2 separate regions of the Homo sapiens genome follow, and region 1 is linked to region 2. The links come from fine-mapping of genetic effects on gene expression. Tissue or cell type: whole blood. Region 2 holds a variant in brackets; the other region holds the start of a gene. All regions are shown on one strand. Distances are from middle to middle.

Region 1 (5,077 bases), 59 kb after region 2:
GGGAAAGAGGCCAAATGATGCCTTTAAGTAAATCACATTTGTATGACACAAAATTCAAAAAATATCTATACCCCAGACACCCAACTCTCTACACAGAAAGCAATCAATTTTACCAATTTCTCATGAAACCTTTTACCCATACAGGCAAATACACACATGCCCTTCTTTTTGACACAAATGGCCTCTTCCACACTATTCTGCACCTTGCTTTTTCACATTTATCTTGTTGGCTGTATTTTAACACACTCTAAGAACGGCCACTTATAATCTCTCATAACCAGAATCCAGTAAGCGTCAGCTATCTTTACAAAGGCTCTTATAAGGCCACCCCAAAAAGTCCTTAAATCAACCAGTGTTCTTAGTAAACACAAGCATACAAACACATGAAATAAACTTCGGTAAAGTGCTGATTTACCAAAAAAGTGACATGATGAAACATTTATTTGATCAGCCATTCAAAAGACTGTATTTACACCCTTAAAAAGGAAACACATGGACTATACTACAAGTCTTCAATGAGTTGAAAATAACAATACACTTATAGAACTGGGGCTACTAAAATATCAAAAAATACTGGTGAAAATAAGCTATTTATTGGTTATATTTATTCCAAGATTAAATGATGTGACCCTTTCCTAAATGTTCTTTCCAACTTATTTTCCCAGAAGTTTCCTTCCATATTTATACAGGTACTGTTCTAAACAAAACAAAACAAAACAAACAAACAACAAAAACAACAAAAAACCTGTCTGTTTGCATTTCCTGTTTTCTTCTTCTGAAACACTTTTGATGCTTATCTGAAGTAAGGCTTCAACATCCCTTACGTATAAAGAGCAGTGTTTTTTTAATATGCATTACTAGAGAGCAATACAAGTATTTCTGGTAATCTTCAACTTAGTACTAAGAATACCACGGTGAAAAGTCAGCTCATAAAAAGCAAAGAGACCACATTAATTACCAGAGCAGTAACTTACTGTTTCTGTTACCGTAAGTAACAGAAAATAAAGCATTAAAAGTCTATTAAGTTTCAGGCTTGTACAACCTTATTAAACAAGAAATGTTTTCAGTTGTTGGCAACAACAACTGCTTTCATTAGGAGTATATATGTCAACTAACCTGGAATACATTTTCATATTAAATAAGTTAAAATTGCTGTTTCATTGTATCAGTACAGACACTTATGACTCTATTTCTGCATTGTACCACAAAATACAAAGTCATCCTTCCATTCAGAGTTTTGGCATATGAACAAACATAGAGGTCAGAGTTCATACACATGCTCTGTAAAACCGACCATGACTTATATACTACTTTCAATAAGTCTGTTGTCATTTTTGAATTTTAAATAATTTTTTCTCCATGTATACTCATCACATACTTAGAATGCTGAATTTCACAAATTATTATTGACACTATTAAAGTACTAACTGTAAAAGAAAAACACAAATAGCAATGATATATTCAATAATGGTATGTGAATCTTGAAAATAATCATTTTCTGTATTACTTTTTGTTTAATTCATGTGGGGAAGACAATCTGGCATTCTTGTTGATCTTGGTATGAGAAACTGTACTAATACTTGCATAATTTTGAGTCAAATTACTAGAGCACTGTGAATATCTTACATAAATAAACGTAGTACAAATGTATCTAAATTCTGCAGGACTTAAGAGCAACGGGAGGCAACTTTTTTGAAAATCTGTTAAGTCGTGATAAATCTCAATAAGGAGATGAAACAATGTATTAATCTGGTGAAATTTCACATTTTTAATAGGTCTGCTTTTCAAAAGTAAGAATCAAGTTAACTATGAGGGACATCATAATGAAGTTTCGTGGCACAACACGAGTCACAGAGGCACTGTCTTAAGACAGTCTCTCTGATCTGTAACTTGTAAACAATATTTTGAAATAAGCTACTCATACATTCCATTATTTGTTTCCTAACTAAAAATATTTACATGTCTTTAATACACCAAACACCTTGCCTTTGCCCACTCAAAAGATTGAGATGTCAATAAAGATGAGGCCTAGGAATTTGGGGGTTAAGTGGAAAAGAGATAATTATCTTATTTGGAATTAACTTGCTAACTCAGGTGAAAATTCCCTTACCCCTGCCACCAAATAAGACAGTATTCTATTATGTCTCCCTTTGACTCCTAACACCCAACTAAGAAGGACTAACTCTGAATGTCCTTCCTTTTTAATCAATACCTAAGGACTCACTGCTCCTTCCCCAAGAAAAGAACAGTGAAGGCCTGACAGGCAATAACCCCGAATACCCTCAAAAGTGTGGGCCTTCGAGCAGCACTGCTCTTGGGATCCAGTTACCACCTTTCCCCTTCCCCCAACCCACTTCCCGGGTTTTCTCAGGCTCGGCCTGCTCCCTCCCCACCCCACAGCCACATTTCCAGCTGCGGCCACCGCCTCGGGTTCTCTTGTGAGCTTCCATCCCTCCGAGGAGTTGCCCCCTGTCCATCACCTCCCCAAACCATGTTCCACCCCAGACCACCCGCCCGCGAGACCGTCCATCCTAGCGCTCTGGGAGGGGAGGGGAAGGCGGCGGAAGGAGGAGGGGAACACTGCTGCTTCCTCACAGGCAGAAGGGCGGCCGCAAGGAGGACCACCCAGGGACTACCGGGGATATCGGGGTCGCAGCTGGGAGGACCCTCCCGCCCCAGGCAGAGGTGGGGGATATCCGGGAGTTCATTTCTGACCTCCTCGCTCTTCAGCACCTCCTTGAACTCCCGCTTGATTCGCTGCACCGCGATGTTGGCCATGTCTCCGCCCGCAGCTGATTCGTACCCGCCTCCTCCGCCACCGCTACGACCACCGCCACCGCCGCCACCTCTTCCTCCACCGCCTCCTCCCTCGGCGATTCAGACCTGAGCACACGAACACTGCCACTACCACCCCGGCCGCCGCGCTCGCCTCAGTGTGGAATCACCTCCGCGCCCGGCCACCAAAATGGCGCCGGGTCGGCGCATGCGCACGACGTTGACCCGGCCGGGCGGCGCAGCCGCTCCCGTTGGAGCCCCCATACGCCCGAGCCACGAGCTCGCGTCTCGGCTGGGGCTGCGGCCGCGTGGCTCCGCCCTGCCGGCGTCTGGGGCCGCGAGGGTGCGGCTTCCAAGCTGGCCGGCCCTAGCCGGCCCCCCCGGCCCTTCCCGGCGCCTCCGCTCCTGTTTAAACCCGGGTGCTGTGGTCTGGGCTTCCAGCGCTGGCCTCTGACCGAAGGTTCGGGCGCAACCGAACGGGTTTCCGACGCCGCACTCGGCTGGAACGCCGCCCTGACTCAGCTAGACCCGGAACCCGGAGGCTGAACGCCGTGTCTAGCGCAGGAAAACGCTCTCCCGGATCTCGGTCCGGCCCATTTTCAGTTGGTGTAGCCCCAGAAAATCTACTGCAGTCGTTTTTGTTCTGCAACATTTATAGTACCACGATTATTCCCATCATCTCAGGTAGCACAGATTATTGAATTAAGGCTGGTTATTGTTGGATCAGATTGGGTTTGAGACAGGTACTCGGTGGAGAGGCCTGAGGGTGGGTTTAGAAGCCAGATGTTGCTCTTTGACCTATTTAATACCGAGCTTGACACACACACACAATCTCTCTCTCTCTCTCTCTCTCTCTCTCACACACACACACACACACACACACACACACTCCTATGCCCATCCCTAGAGTGTAGGGTGGGCCTAAGACTGCGCTTCTAACAAGTCTCCCAGTTGCTGCTGCTGTTGGTGCTGGTTCCGGGACCACATTATGAGAACCACTGAACTGAATGAAGCATGTGAAAATTCACATATATTAAAGTGAAAATTGGAGAAATGGAAACAATTACAGTACCCTTCAGGGGACTCGGGGTGGGGGAGGGGGAGCCTTATTTCTGTAAACCTAGGCCTCAAAGGTGCCTGGTGATAGTAGGCACTCAATAAATATTGAATGAGTAAATGAGTACAGATAAGACTAAAACGTTTTTGCTGGCGCGGCGGATCGCTTGAGGTCAGGAGTCCGAGACCAGTCTGGCCAACATGGTGAAACCCCATCTCTACTAAAAATACAAAAATCAGCCAGGTGTGGTGGCAGGCACCTGTAATCCCAGCTATTCTGGAGGCTGAGGCAGGAACATCGCTTGAACCTGGGGGTCGGAGGTTGCAGTGAGCGAGATCGCGCCACTGCACTCCAGCCTGGGCCACAGTGCAAGATTCTGTCTCAAACAAAACAAAACAAAACAAAAAGTATAAAATATTTTAAGTGGAAAGTAAGTTTGAAAGTGGTTTCTGGGCCAGGTGCGGTGGCTCACGCCTGTAATCCCAGCACTTTGGGAGGCGGAGGCGGGCGGATCACGAGGTCAGGAGATCAAGACCATCCTGGCTAACACGGTGAAACCCCGTCTCTACTAAAAAAATATAAAAAAAATAGCTGGGCGTGGTGGCGGGCGCCTGTAGTCCCAGCTACTCGGGAGGCTGAGGCAGGAGAATGGCGTGAACCCGGGAGGCGGAGCTTGCAGCGAGCGAGATTGCGCCACTGCACTCCAGTCTGGGCAACGGAGCGAGACTCCGTCTCAAAAAAAAACAAAAAACAAACAAACAAAAGAAAGTGGTTTCTGGTCGGGCGCGGTGGCTCACGCCTGTAATCCCAGCACTTTGGAAGGCCGAGGGGGAGCAGATCACTTGAGCCCAGGAGTTTGAGACCAACCTGGGCCCTATGGTGAAATCCTGTCTCTAAAGATAATAATTTTTAAAAAAGAAAGTGGTTTCTAAGGTGCATAGTAATAATGGTTTGGTACTGAGAAGCATTTTGAATAGAACATTTTGGAATAAGTAATAAGGGTGTCATTTCAGAAGTTTATACTTCATGCACTTTCTTCACCTAGCCAATCAGTAAAATATCTATTATAAAAATATCACAAATACATGGTTTTACCAAAAGTAATTAAAATTGTGGTGGCAAACATGGAAATAGCCAATGGAGGCGAATCAGTGGGGGCACAAGGCAAAAGAGAATTTCTTAAACTCCCGCCCCAGGAACCAAGAGGAGATTTTAAAATTCCAGTTCTCTCCCATGGCAGTTCTC
Region 2 (5,262 bases):
CAACATGACTGAGTCTCATCCATGTTGTTTGTGTCAATGATAGGCTCTTTTTTACTGTTTATGTAGTGCTCCAGTGTGTGATCACAATGTATCAATTTTCTTGTTGATGAGACATCTAAGTTATTTCCCGTTGGGGCTATTAATAAATCTGCCATAAATATTCTTTTATACATGTCTTTTAAAAAGTAGGCATAGACACTAATTTCTTTTAGATATATACCTAGGAATGAAGCTGATAGGGCATACTGAAGGTGTATGTTTAGCTTTGGTAGATATTACTGGCTTTAAGTGGTTAAACCACATTATTTGTTTTTTTTTTTTTTTCTGTTTTTTTTTTTTTTTTGTGACAGAGTCTCGCTCTGTCACCCAGGCTGGAGTGCAGTGGCGCGATGTCGGCTCACTGCAACCTCTGCCTCCCAGGTTCAAGAGATTCTCCTGTCTCAGCCCCACGAGTAGCTGGGATTACAGGTGCCCACCACCCACGCCTGGCTAATTTTTGTATTTTTAGTAGAGATGGGGTTTCACCATGTTGGCCAGGCTGGTCTTGAACTCCTGACCTCAAGCAATCCACCTACCTTGGCCTCCCAAAGTGTTGGGATAACAGGCATGAGCCACCGTGCCCTGCCTGGTTAAGCCACATTCTTACCAGCAATGCATGAGGTATTTGTGTTTACAGGCATGTAGTAGTTATCTTATTGTGATTTTCATTTGCATTTCCCTGATGAGTAATGATGCTGAGCATACCTTATCGACCAGGCAGATATTCTGTGCCTGTTTGTGTCTTTTAGAAGGGCAGCGTCACTGAGTGAAATTTTTATGTGTTGCCATTTTCTTCCCCAGGTAAGTAGACACCATTAGTCATAGTAAGTGTCAGTGGAAAACATTAGAAAATAGTTTCCACACAGCACAAGTTGTGGAATTAAGAAATAAACCAGGGGCCGGGCACAGTGGCTCACGCCTGTCATTGCAGCACTCTGGGAGGCCGAGGCCAGTGGATCACCTGAGGTCAGGAGTTTGAGACCAGCCTGGCCAACACGGTGGAACCCTGTCTCTACTAAAAATAGAAAAAAATTAGCTGGGCGTGGTGGCACATGCCTGTAATGTAATCCCAGATACTTAGGAGGCCGAGGCAGGAGAACTGCTTGAGCCCGGGAGGCGGAGGTTGCAGTGAGCAGAGATGGCACCATTGCACTCCAGCCTGGGTGACAGAGCGAGACTTTGCCTCAAAAAAAAATAATAATAATAAACAAATATACTAAAATAAGTTAAATATTAATAAAGGTATATCATCACCCCTAGATGCATTAATAAAAGACCAAGATTAACCAATTATTTTCTAGTATGCCTGCTGAAAATTATTTATGTAATTCATTTTTCCTATGATTAAGACTCTGTATTTTTCTCTATCAAATTCCAGTTCTGAAACCTAAACATCCACATTTAAATATGGATATGCACTAAATGTCAATTATACCTCAGTAAAGCTCTGGGAATAAAGTAATGACTTCATGAATATCTAGTCTCACCTATTTTATCTAATGTGTCTTTGGTATATTCTAATATTTCAATTGTACAGATAAAAAACAAGATTATTCACCTGCCTTAGGAAAAGGGAATAGTTGATGTAAAAAATGTTTTGTTCCTGCACATCATATTAGGAGAAAATGTTTTGGTATAAAAATTCAACTTCTCTCTCTATATATACACACCATAATCTTTCAACTAGCTATATAGGAAGATAATTACAAGTAATAGTACTGTTGGCTTAACTCTGGGCAAAAAGAGAAGTCAATGGGAAGTTTTCATCTGCAAACTTTTTCTTTCTTTTTTTTTTTTATTTTTGAGATGGGGTCTCACTCCGTCGCCCAGGCTAGAGTGCAATGGCATGATCTCTGCTAACTGCAACTTCCGCCTCCCAGGTTCAAGCGATTCTCCTGCCTCAGCCTCCCAAGTAGCTGGGATTACAGGTATGCACCACCATGCCCAGCTAATTTATTTATTTTTGGTAGAGATGGGGTTTCACCATGTTGGCCAGGCTGGTCTCAAACTTCTGACCTCAAGCGATCTGCCCACTTCCGCCTTCTAAAGCGTTGGAATTACAGGCATGAGCCACTGCACGTGGCGGCAAGCTTTGTTTTCAAAGTTGTCAT[T/G]CTGGGTGCTGGGAATAGCCTGAGTAGGTAAAAGCCAGAAGCAGGGAGGCAGACTAATGCAATCATGCAGGCTAGAGGTAATCCGTTTGGAAAAGTGTGGTAGTAAAGCTGCTGTTAAGATGTTGGGAGGTTTTGCCAATAGATCTGCAGACAGGGCATGGGGTACCAGAGAAAGAAATGCCAAGGATCATGATGTGATTTTGGCCTGAGAAAATGCAAGGACGTATTTGCCAATAACTTAGTTGGGGAAGACTATAGAAGCAGGTTTCAGGTTAGGAGACTATCAGTTCAGTTTATGTTTGATATGTTCGTTATATAGTCAAGTAAAGATGATAAGCAGGCAGCAGGATAGGAGTCTCAAGTTCAGGGAAGATAATTTGTGAGTTTGCAGTATGTAAAGGTGAAGTTATGATGAAATCAGATGAGCTTACCAAGGAAGTGAGTGCAGCTAGAAAGGAGCAGAAATCCAAGACTTATCCCTGAGGCATTCTAATACACAAAGATGCAAGGAACTGGTTAAGGAATCTGGGAGTGAGCATAGGAAAGGGAGAATAGAAAATCTAATGTCCTAGAAGCCAAGTGAAAACAGTACAATGTCTCTAATACTGCAAATATGTATTCATATCACTGAATCTTAGAGCTTTTAGAGGCCTTGGCGATAACCTAATGGATTAAAAACACTGACACTTAAGAAGTTCAATAAATTGGTAAAAGTCACAAATCAAAAGAGTAACAGAGAAGATAAAAAGTAAGTCTATTCCACACTGCTTTATGTTAGAAAGTCTTGATCTATATGGAATATAGAATATATTGAAATACAGATCAAGAAACCAGATCCCAAGAGATGATCTACTGAGGGACAGGATTTACTCAGATATACTACTGGAATAGAAAAAAAAAACAAAACAAAACCTGTAACTCTAGTCTGTTCATCCAGTTACTAAGTAAACCACTGGCCATACACTAAATACTGTCATTCCTATTTGATTTTCTTTCAGGTACCTTTTTTTCTCCCCTTTCTTAACAAATCAATCACATAGCTTAGGCCGGGTGTGGTGGCTCATGCCTGTAATCCCAACACTTTGGGAGGCTGAGGCAGGTGGATCACCTGAGCTCAGGAGTTTGAGACCAGCCTGGCCAACATGGTGAAACCTCATCTCTACTAAAAATACAAAAATTAGCTGGGCATGATGGCGCACGCCTGTAGTCCCAGCTACTCGGGAGGCTAAGGCAGGAGAATCGCTTGAACCCGGTAGGCAGAGGTTGCAGTGAGCCAAGATCGTGCCACTGCACTCCAGCCTGGGTGACAAGAGTGAAACTCTGTCTCAAAAAAAAAACAAAAAACAAAAAACAAAAAACAAAAAAAAAACACCCAAAAAAACATAGCTTAAAAATTCTAGTACCAAAAATAATATATAATCTTTAGAAGATTAGGCAGCCAGGCTGGGCCCATTAAACACAGTTTTGGCTCCAAGTCTTCTTACCAACTGCTGTTCTATTTTGTTCTGTTATACCTTCTCTTGTAAAAGAGTAAAATCAGAAGGAAAGGTCATAATAGACACTCACTTAATTGATTTTTTCTAGTTTTATGGTTTTCTCCCACTCCAATTACTTTTCATACCTTTGGTCTTAGTTTTTCCATCTATAAAATCATGTGCTAAATAATTAACTATCATCTTTATCATTGTCAGACTACACAAAGCTTCCAGCCTGGGCAACAGGAACCCTGTCTCTAAAAAAAATACAAACATTAGCCAGGTGTGGTGGTATGCGCCTGTATTCCCAGCTACTTGGGAGGCTGAGGTGGTAGGACTACTTGGGCTTTAGAGGTCAAGGCTGCAGTGAGCTGTGATTGCGCCACTGCACTCCAGCCTGGGCAACAGGGCAAGACCCTGTCTCAAAACAAACAAACAAAAACAAAAGCAAAGCTCTATTCTAAGGGAATTACATAAAGTAACTTATTTAATCCTCTGAGCTCTATGAAGTGGGTATCAACCCATTTTGCAGATGAGGACACTAAGGCACACAGACTTTAGGTAATTTGCTCATAACCATGCAGCTTGGTAAACTGGAGAGCCAAGATGTGAACCTGGTGGCTCCAGAGTAGGAACTCTTAAAACATTTAATGCTGTGCAGAGCAAATCAGACAAAAAAAGTGAAAGCACAATACCGCTATCCAAATGAAGACATCACCTACAAAGGTGCTCCTTGTTAGAATTCATAAACCAAAATCTTAACTGTGCTCAATTAACACAACCTGCAACAATTTTGTAACTTACATTCCATCTAAGGGGGATATGACTACTTCAATACTTACTTTCTACTTTTTTAGTCTTTCACAAATATCTTCTTAAGATAGCAAAGAATCAAATTTACCAAAATAACAAATGAAATCCAAGGCTTTTCAAAGTGTAAAGCTAGCATCTAACATTATCTAACAAGTTTCTATTTAAATATGGATTGTGATCTCAATTATAATGCATTTTCAGTTATGCACTTAAGAGACTTTTAAAGTTACTGCCCAAACAAGATAAAGTATAATATATGTTTTGAGGCAATTACACATTTAACACTCTTACAGTCTTGGTATTCATATGAGAAGGAGAGAAGGTGAATTCAAAATCTCTTACCATTGATCTTTCAGGATATCCAAACAAATAGCCCCTGTGACGGAACTAATATTAGGATGCCATATTTTAGTGATAAACCGGACCTAGAATATAAAGCACACTTGAGTTTTTCAGTAACAGAAATAAAACAGTTTAAGTAGAACTACAAGAAAATGAAATCTTCAAACTAAAAAAAGAAAGGTCCCTATATCTATTACATCATTTTGCCTAGGTGAAAGAAGGGGTGTAGAAGACAAAGGATCCAGTAAGCTGAATGTTGTCACTAACATATGTTGTTTTCAAACTCTTTAATAAATGTTCCGCCTTTAAACAAACCCAACAATTACTAGGAGCTTACAATTTACCTAGAATAATGGTAGATGCTATGAGAATACAACAGAGAATAAAATCCATTTTGGTAAATAAAATAGTACATAAAATAAAAACATAAATAGTAAATGGCACTTTTCTTCATGTGAGGCAGGGTGCAGAATAGGTTTGAG

The links. PIP is the estimated chance that this variant, and not a neighbour inherited with it, causes the effect.
Region 1: it holds the start of UBE2K, and the variant in region 2 is fine-mapped to the expression of UBE2K in whole blood (TOPMed, PIP above 0.99). The same link has a PIP of 0.9 or more in monocytes and tibial artery.

What each region holds. Positions count from the first base shown.
Region 1 is chr4:39,696,029-39,701,105 of GRCh38, reverse strand. UBE2K (ubiquitin conjugating enzyme E2 K) reads right to left here and starts at 2,970. Exons shown (of 7, transcript NM_005339.5): 1 at 2,716-2,970. The coding sequence starts at 2,778. RefSeq lists a silencer at 2,987-3,276 and an enhancer at 3,357-3,416.
Region 2 is chr4:39,755,258-39,760,519 of GRCh38, reverse strand. It overlaps UBE2K (ubiquitin conjugating enzyme E2 K), which reads right to left. Exons shown (of 7, transcript NM_005339.5): 4 at 4,781-4,863. Among named protein-coding and RNA genes, the nearest start is that of UBE2K, 60 kb to the right of the region's middle. The variant T/G (reference allele first, on the strand shown) is at 2,151.